Linked DNA regions of Homo sapiens: all the other regions are linked to region 1. Evidence: fine-mapped expression QTL. A gene starts in region 1. Each other region holds a variant in brackets. All regions are shown on one strand. Distances are between the middles of the regions.

Region 1 (2,761 bases):
GCTCTACCACTTACTGTGGTCTCGAACAAAGTACTTAACTTCTTTGTACCTCAGTCTCCTCATCTGCCAGATATGGATAATAAGACCCACTTTATAGGTTCATAGTGAAGATTAAATGACCATACACAACACACATCAAATTACTAAGTGTAGTATATGTTAGCTATTATTATTTTATTTATTCAGTGCTCTACTAATAACCTAGGCCCCATACACAACTGAAGTATAAATTCCAAAAGTGATAGAAAGTTCTTTGTGACTTTTCTGAACTCAGGAACATCTGAAGTAGAGAACAGTATAGAGATCTTGGGTTTGGGAGTACATTCAACAGAGTTTCCAGTTTAAATCATCTGTCTGGTCAGTATGGCTGCAGAGTCATGCCGAAATGAAAATGTTGACTTTGAGTAACTAAAGGTAAAATAAAAGAAAAAGGGAAGGTGGAACAGTGGTAAGAGTTATTCTTGTATTCATCTAATTTAGACTTAGTTGAAATTGAAAATGTCAAGTTATGAGTAGTGTAGAACAGTAGACATCAAACACTTAAAATTCCAGCTTCCTGGATTAATGCTATGGAAAGAATGAAGTTGGTTGATAATGTTTAGCCTAGCAAGAAGGTGAAGAAGAAAGCCATACAAGAAGTGGCTTAGGCAGCAAATTATAAAGGTGACCATTCATTCAAATCAGTAAAACAAACAAGTATACCTTATTCTTTAGGTAAAATTGATGGATCTCTGTTTTCCAGCAGTTCACAAACAGAGGGGTACATTGTAAACAACAAACTAACAAAATAAATTCTGGGATGGCAACCTGCTAAGGTATCCCAGAAAATAAGAGGTAGGACATGAATTTAAAAGATTGGAAGGTATGTCTTCAGTACTGGCCTGGCCCTGAGTAGACTAGTGCTCCCTCCCATAGGGGTGCGTGTGCACACATAATACAGGAGGGAAGCCTTCCCTTCTAGAGCAAGTGATTCAGCTTGGGAGGCTGTGACTGAGCTACACTAAGTAAAAACGGGAGACTTGATTGTCCTTCCTTCAACAGACCTGTCCAAAATGACTGGAAAGTAAATACCGTAAATCACTGTTGTCAGGGCGCACATTCCACCTCCTTCCTCCCTTACCCACAGCGGTCCTCATTTCCACACTCCCTCAACGGTTCGGGGAGAGCTCGTGGTCTAAGTAACGAGAGGACTTCTGACTGTAATCCTAGCACGTCACTTTGTTGAAGGCAGACACGTGGTTCAGAGAGAACTTATAAATCTCCCCTCCCCGGCAAGATCGTGATGTTATCTGCTGGCAGCAGAAGGTTCGCTCCGAGCGGAGCTCCAGAAGCTCCTGACAAGAGAAAGACAGATTGAGATAGAGATAGAAAGAGAAAGAGAGAAAGAGACAGCAGAGCGAGAGCGCAAGTGAAAGAGGCAGGGGAGGGGGATGGAGAATATTAGCCTGACGGTCTAGGGAGTCATCCAGGAACAAACTGAGGGGCTGCCCGGCTGCAGACAGGAGGAGACAGAGAGGATCTATTTTAGGGTGGCAAGTGCCTACCTACCCTAAGCGAGCAATTCCACGTTGGGGAGAAGCCAGCAGAGGTTGGGAAAGGGTGGGAGTCCAAGGGAGCCCCTGCGCAACCCCCTCAGGAATAAAACTCCCCAGCCAGGGTGTCGCAAGGGCTGCCGTTGTGATCCGCAGGGGGTGAACGCAACCGCGACGGCTGATCGTCTGTGGCTGGGTTGGCGTTTGGAGCAAGAGAAGGAGGAGCAGGAGAAGGAGGGAGCTGGAGGCTGGAAGCGTTTGCAAGCGGCGGCGGCAGCAACGTGGAGTAACCAAGCGGGTCAGCGCGCGCCCGCCAGGGTGTAGGCCACGGAGCGCAGCTCCCAGAGCAGGATCCGCGCCGCCTCAGCAGCCTCTGCGGCCCCTGCGGCACCCGACCGAGTACCGAGCGCCCTGCGAAGCGCACCCTCCTCCCCGCGGTGCGCTGGGCTCGCCCCCAGCGCGCGCACACGCACACACACACACACACACACACACGCACGCACACACGTGTGCGCTTCTCTGCTCCGGAGCTGCTGCTGCTCCTGCTCTCAGCGCCGCAGTGGAAGGCAGGACCGAACCGCTCCTTCTTTAAATATATAAATTTCAGCCCAGGTCAGCCTCGGCGGCCCCCCTCACCGCGCTCCCGGCGCCCCTCCCGTCAGTTCGCCAGCTGCCAGCCCCGGGACCTTTTCATCTCTTCCCTTTTGGCCGGAGGAGCCGAGTTCAGATCCGCCACTCCGCACCCGAGACTGACACACTGAACTCCACTTCCTCCTCTTAAATTTATTTCTACTTAATAGCCACTCGTCTCTTTTTTTCCCCATCTCATTGCTCCAAGAATTTTTTTCTTCTTACTCGCCAAAGTCAGGGTTCCCTCTGCCCGTCCCGTATTAATATTTCCACTTTTGGAACTACTGGCCTTTTCTTTTTAAAGGAATTCAAGCAGGATACGTTTTTCTGTTGGGCATTGACTAGATTGTTTGCAAAAGTTTCGCATCAAAAACAACAACAACAAAAAACCAAACAACTCTCCTTGATCTATACTTTGAGAATTGTTGATTTCTTTTTTTTATTCTGACTTTTAAAAACAACTTTTTTTTCCACTTTTTTAAAAAATGCACTACTGTGTGCTGAGCGCTTTTCTGATCCTGCATCTGGTCACGGTCGCGCTCAGCCTGTCTACCTGCAGCACACTCGATATGGACCAGTTCATGCGCAAGAGGATCGAG
Region 2 (2,761 bases), 170 kb after region 1:
TGTGTGAGTCCCAGAAGTTACAAGATTACACCGAGAAGAACGAGTGATCATAAAGTAAAAATATTCACGATTGAACTGACCACTTATGGAACTAACCCATGCTGTACTTTCTCCCACAACGTGGCCCTGGTTTCTGTTTCTATCGTCTCTGTTCCACCTCTGTCCATCTTATGTTATCTGTCTCTCATTGACTGTTGGTGGTTGACAATACCATGTGAACACAGAGTGAAATTACATCTCTTACAAAATATGAAGGATTTCATACAGACAATAAAGGTGATATTGGAGAACTGCTTCACCAATCATGGTCATTAACTGTGAGGATCTGTGAGACTTTAACCAGCACAGCATCACTGTGGCTGACTCAGCAATTTTTTTCCACTACCAATGATTAACCTAAGCAGATGATGGTAGTCCTGTTCCTTTTACCACTTATTTATTTCAGAATGAGTTAAGCAGGCATTAAAAGCGGACTATAACTGAGGGTCTCTTTTTAAGATTTTCAAGTTGGAAAATTCTGCTTTGATGCTAAGAGGCAGAATAAAACCCAGAAAGATTCATTCAATCTGACTTATTAATATTTGGAAGAGGTCAGTTTATTCTGCTCAGTTCAATTAAAATCAAATAACTTTAGTGGATAGGAATTATTCAAAAGTTTTTAATACTAGGATCTATTACTCTAGGCAAGCCATACCTAAGTAATCTATACAGTTAGGGGCAGGCTAATTTCAGGCAGCAGGAAACAGTCAGCTAAAATAGAGCAGAGACGGAGGAAAATACCACTTGGAGTGCCACTCACATGTTTAAGGGCAGACATGAAAAGGTAGGCAAGTGTTTCTCTTTCTTTTGGCAAGCATTTTATAGGAAAAATTCTACAAAGCTAGGAGACTACCTGGTAAAGCTAAGCCCATTTAGAAGGGGAGGGAAGGAAGAAAATAATGCAAAAAGTCAGAGTTCAGTATTGACAAGGGATCTTTTCATTGCATGTGATTGATGACTGACGGTTTGCCCCTGCTTTTTGATTCCTGTTTGCTGATTTCCCATTTTATTTACCCATAATCCACTCATTACTCTGATAAACCATGGAAGCAGTGGTCCACAAATCTGTGTTAGTTTCTCTGTTCTCTCTGCAGTCTTTTAGAGGTACCTGCTAACACAGCTTTAAAGATCCCCTGTAAGTCAAAATTAGCTATGCTTGGTGGCACATGCCCATAGTCCCAGCTACTTGGGAGGCTGAGGCAGGAGAATTGCTTGAACCCGAGAGGTGGAGGTTGCAGTAAGCAGAGATCACGCCTGGGTGACAGAGCAAGACTCCATCTCAAAAAAAAAAAAAAAAAAAGAAAAATCCCCTGTAAGTTAATGACTTCCACTTTCTATCTCTTGCCTTGAACGCCCATACTTCCTTCTCCCTACAGATAATCTACCTTGAAAGAATTTGCCACCATCTCACTAAACAGGTCAGTTTAATAAAATCATTGACTCCTAATAATCTTTGCC[G/A]CTGCGGTGTTCCTGGGCACTAGGCTGGTGCTTCTTAACTCTGGCTGCATGGTAGAAATGTGTGAGGAGTTTTTTTAAAAAAAGACTAATATCATCTCAGCTTGGAGAGACTAGAATTTGATTGGTCTGGGTCGGTTATTTGGTGATTTTTTTTTTTTTTTTTTTTTGACAGAGTCTCGCTCTGTCGCCCAGGCTGGAGTGCAGTGGTGCGATCTTGGCTCACTGCAAGCTCCACCTTCCCAGTTCACACCGTTCTCCTGCCTCAGCCTCCCAAGTGGCTGGGACTACAGGCGCCTGCCACCATGCCTGGCCAGTTTTTTTTTTTGTTTTGTTTTTTGTTTGTTTTTTTTTTTTTTTTGTATTTTTAGTAGAGACGGGTTTCACCGTGTTAGCCAGGATGGTCTCGATCTGATTTCGTGATCCGCCCGCCTCAGCCTCCCAGTGCTGGGGTTACTGGTGTGAGTCACCCCACCTGGTCTATTTGGTGATTTTATTGTGCAGCTAGGGTTAAGACAACCTAACTAAGCCCTGGGTTTTGGCTGCTCTTCTGCATGGTTTGTTCACTGTTCTCTGTGCATTTCTTCAGTCCTCTCTCCTTTGCCTGCACTCCACAACCACAAAGCAAGATGGCGACCCTCTTGCTCTCAACATTTGTGTAGAACCTTTTACAGAGTTGGGCTGTTTTTCTCCTATAGCTCTATTTAGTTGATACACAACAGGAAGTTGTCTTCAAGCATACTTTCTATCAAGGCATTATGCTATCCAGAATTCTGTATTGAATTCTGAATGTCTACTTTAAATAATTAAGATAACAGAACTCAAGGTTACCAACTCATTGACCTTTCCAGGTCCTTTTCCATTTCTCTTTAGAAATTGATCCGTTTTCTGTAGATTTCAAGTAGATTGATACTCTCCATCTCCTTTTCTTTTCTTTTCTTTTTTTTTTTTGAGACAGAGTCTCACTCTGTCTTTCAGGCTGGAGCGCAGTGGCACGATCTCGGCTCACCGCAACCTCTGCCTCCCAGGTTCAAGCAACTCTCCTGCCTCAGCCTCTCTAGTAGCTGGGATTTACAGGTGCCTGCCACCACACTGGTCTAATTTTTTTTGTTGTTGTTTTGTTTTTAGTAGAGATGGGGTTTCACCATGTTGGCCAGGCTGGCCTCGAACTCCTAACCTCAAGTGAACCACCCACCTTGGCCTCCCAAAGGGCTGGGATTACAGATGTGAGCCACTGTGCCTGGCTTCTCCATATTCTTTATATCAT
Region 3 (2,761 bases), 170 kb after region 1:
GGATAAGATAAATGAATATCAGTCTTTTTTTTGTACTGGAAATAGCAGATTCGGAAACATGGCTTGGAGGAGAGGCTATAATTAGGTTACCTAATTGCTTCCCCATGAGTTGAACCAATGTACTCACCAAGCTGCAGACAGCCCAGTAAGAATACTGCAGGCTTTCCCCCTGCCCTAGCTTTCTTGCCCAGGGAAGGAGTGAAATTGGGACATGTTGGAATCTGTTGGAAGGGGCTGGTTACACTGCCCTTTCCTCCATTCTTGCCAGTGTTCAGTTCCTTCTTCCATTCTTGCCAATCTGATAATTTACTCTTCTGCTCTTAGGAAGTAAAGAACAGATAGAAAGGACAAAAACGCCTTTCCCATTTTTTTCCTCTTTGGAATGAAATGTATTTTTTTTCCCTTCCAAGGAAATATGAAGAGGTAGTGTTTAAATGTCTCCCTAAAAGTAATGAAACTATCTTTTTAGAAGTTTCTGTTTTGAATTCGCAGGAAAGATTTGAAATTGTTTCTAGTTGAGCTGAGTTGATTTTAATGCCTATAAACTTTGTGATCAGAGACAATACTTTAGCTTCCAAATTGCAAAATTAATGTTGGCTCATCTGCTTAAAGTCAGATAACTCTACCCTTTGGGTAAGCAAGTGAAACACCCAGTCATTTTGGTGGAGAAAAGCAGTGGAGCCAATTGTTTAACCGGATTGGCCAAAAAAGAAATGAGAGGGATAGATTTCAGATGCAAGCCATATGCTTCTGTTCCAAGGGGAGAAAAGAAAGCAGTCAGAACATTTGGTGGAGAAGGAGGGCCTGAATGCAAATTTACATGAACAAAGGAACAGCCAAGGAGAAAGACATAGAAAGATGATATAACAGCTGCAGACAAATACGCAAGTTAAAGATGACTTTGATACTGGTGAAGAATGCTGACTAATTTTGTCAAGTTTTTGATGCTGAGACAACATCAGAAGCAACTTTCACCTTGTTCAGGGATGACCTTGTGTGTTCAAATTGCAAAGAACTTTGTGTGAGTCAGCAGCACCATCTTTGCATTTAACACAAAGTTGCTTAATTGAGGGACAAGATGATGGTCAAGCTCCAGTTTGATGCTTTTTGAGGGACATTGTGGCCAACATTTAGATTACATACTGTGTTTTTCCTCTTGGAGCTATGATTTCCACTAGAAGAAGGTCAAGAGTGTGACTTTGGCATATTGTGAATAGTTTGGTGATATATCCCAGATTTGTCTAGTGAATTTTAACATTTTGTTGATTAACATTTACTGAGAGTTCTTCACCTGATCTAGTTATTCTGAACATTCTTTGACATGGTTATACTCTCTTTCATCTTGAAAACACATGTGTCAGTCAACCACATAACAACTGGCCCTTTACTGGAAGCAGATCAGAATTTTCATCCCAGGTCTGACACTCACCTTTCTGTGAGCCTGAGGAAGTAACTTTATTCATTCTTTCAACAAATATTTTTTAGGTACCTACATCTTTTCAGCACTGGAGATGATTTCTGCCTTCATGGACTCTAAGCTGAGTGAGGAAGACAGACCATTAAGCAGGTCATTAAAACCAAGTGCCATAAGAGCTATTTTAGGGGACCTACAGGAAGGAGCCTATGGCAGTGCAGAGGAGA[C/T]ACGTCTGTCTTAAAGGGTCAGAGAGAGCTTTCTCATGGTTTAAGCTGAGTCTGAAGAGGTTAAATAAATATCCGAGGAGCAAGTGCTTTGAAAGAAAGGAACTGCGTTTTAGACAGGGAGAAAAGAGAGCTGCAAGCAGGGAACTTGAATTCAGAGAATTTCAGTTTGCTGAGAACACGAAGTGTGAGGAAGGCCAGAGGGAGCCTGGAGAGGTTGGGGGAGAGAGATAAGAGGAATGTGGTGGGAAGTAAGCTGGAAGAAGTAGGTAAGATCTTTGGTTCCTTTAAACACAAAATAGTAATAATAATGTCCACTACACACACAAATTCTGAGAATCAAAGGAGAAAATGTTCACAGAACAGTTTTGTAATCTACAAAGCACTAGACAAAGGCAAGAAGACATTCTGACTGGGGTGTTGGCTGTAAACTGTGGTTCACTTTTCCAGGAGCAGGAACAGTTCTGCCCAGAGTTATGCTCTGAAGATCTTTTTGACCAACGTTGCAATGTGACAGGAGTTTTTTGTGAAAACATAAATTGCAATAATATGGTGTATTTGTGTATTTGTTTTCTATTTCCTTATACATTTTTTATAGATGTCTTTATTAGTTACTATTGGCAATGCCTGGTATATATGGCCAACCAACATGAGAAACATTTCCCAGAACCCTGAAATCATATCATAGAGGCAATGATCACACACAGAGGTGGTTTTAAGTACTCCCTGGACAATTGCTGTTTGCTCTGTCACCATCAATTCTAGGGTCTCTCGGTTGATAGCTGAATCAAGCTTAAGTTTTTTTTTCTATGTCCCAATTCATCCCTTCTTTCTGGTTTTGTTCTCAAGAATAAATTTTAGCAATGCATTGTGAGTAATTTTCTTCAGAAGAGCCAGCCAGTATTTCTCCTCTGTTGGTTAAACCCAAAACCTGGGTTTTTGCACCCAGCTTGTGGCTCAGGTCACTGTGTAAGCCTAGGACTCGTTATTTTTATATTTTCTTCCTCTGATAAGAGAGACTCGGGACACATAAGTGTTAAGCCTATCTAAATGTTTCACCCTGATTTCAAATGGATTTGTCATTTTCTAAGGAAAGGTATGTGTAGCTGGCGGATAGCTATAG

Alleles and levels. Alleles are on the strand shown, and positions count from the first base shown. SD is a standard deviation of normalised expression in the study named. Not every link is listed here.
For the expression in thyroid of the gene that starts at base 1,282 in region 1, allele A in region 2 goes with a lower level than allele G (small effect, 0.29 SD a copy in GTEx).

Evidence for each region. PIP is the estimated chance that this variant, and not a neighbour inherited with it, causes the effect.
Region 2: its variant is the best candidate, but not a certain one, in a credible set for the expression of TGFB2 in thyroid (GTEx, PIP 0.69).
Region 3: its variant is the best candidate, but not a certain one, in a credible set for the expression of TGFB2 in blood mononuclear cells (TOPMed, PIP 0.62).

The regions. Positions count from the first base shown.
Region 1 is chr1:218,344,055-218,346,815 of GRCh38, forward strand. TGFB2 (transforming growth factor beta 2) reads left to right here and starts at 1,282. Exons shown (of 7, transcript NM_003238.6): 1 at 1,282-2,761. The coding sequence starts at 2,648. It overlaps TGFB2-AS1 (TGFB2 antisense RNA 1), which reads right to left and starts at 1,624. Exons shown (of 3, transcript NR_046268.1): 1 at 1,549-1,624; 2 at 1,121-1,334; 3 at 142-408. RefSeq lists a silencer at 1,210-1,269 and an enhancer at 1,650-1,699.
Region 2 is chr1:218,510,216-218,512,976 of GRCh38, forward strand. The region is part of intron 1 of LINC02869 (long intergenic non-protein coding RNA 2869); the gene reads left to right. Among named protein-coding and RNA genes, the nearest start is that of LINC02869, 1.5 kb to the left of the region's middle. The variant G/A (reference allele first, on the strand shown) is at 1,498.
Region 3 is chr1:218,517,658-218,520,418 of GRCh38, forward strand. The region is part of intron 1 of LINC02869 (long intergenic non-protein coding RNA 2869); the gene reads left to right. Among named protein-coding and RNA genes, the nearest start is that of LINC02869, 8.9 kb to the left of the region's middle. The variant C/T (reference allele first, on the strand shown) is at 1,642.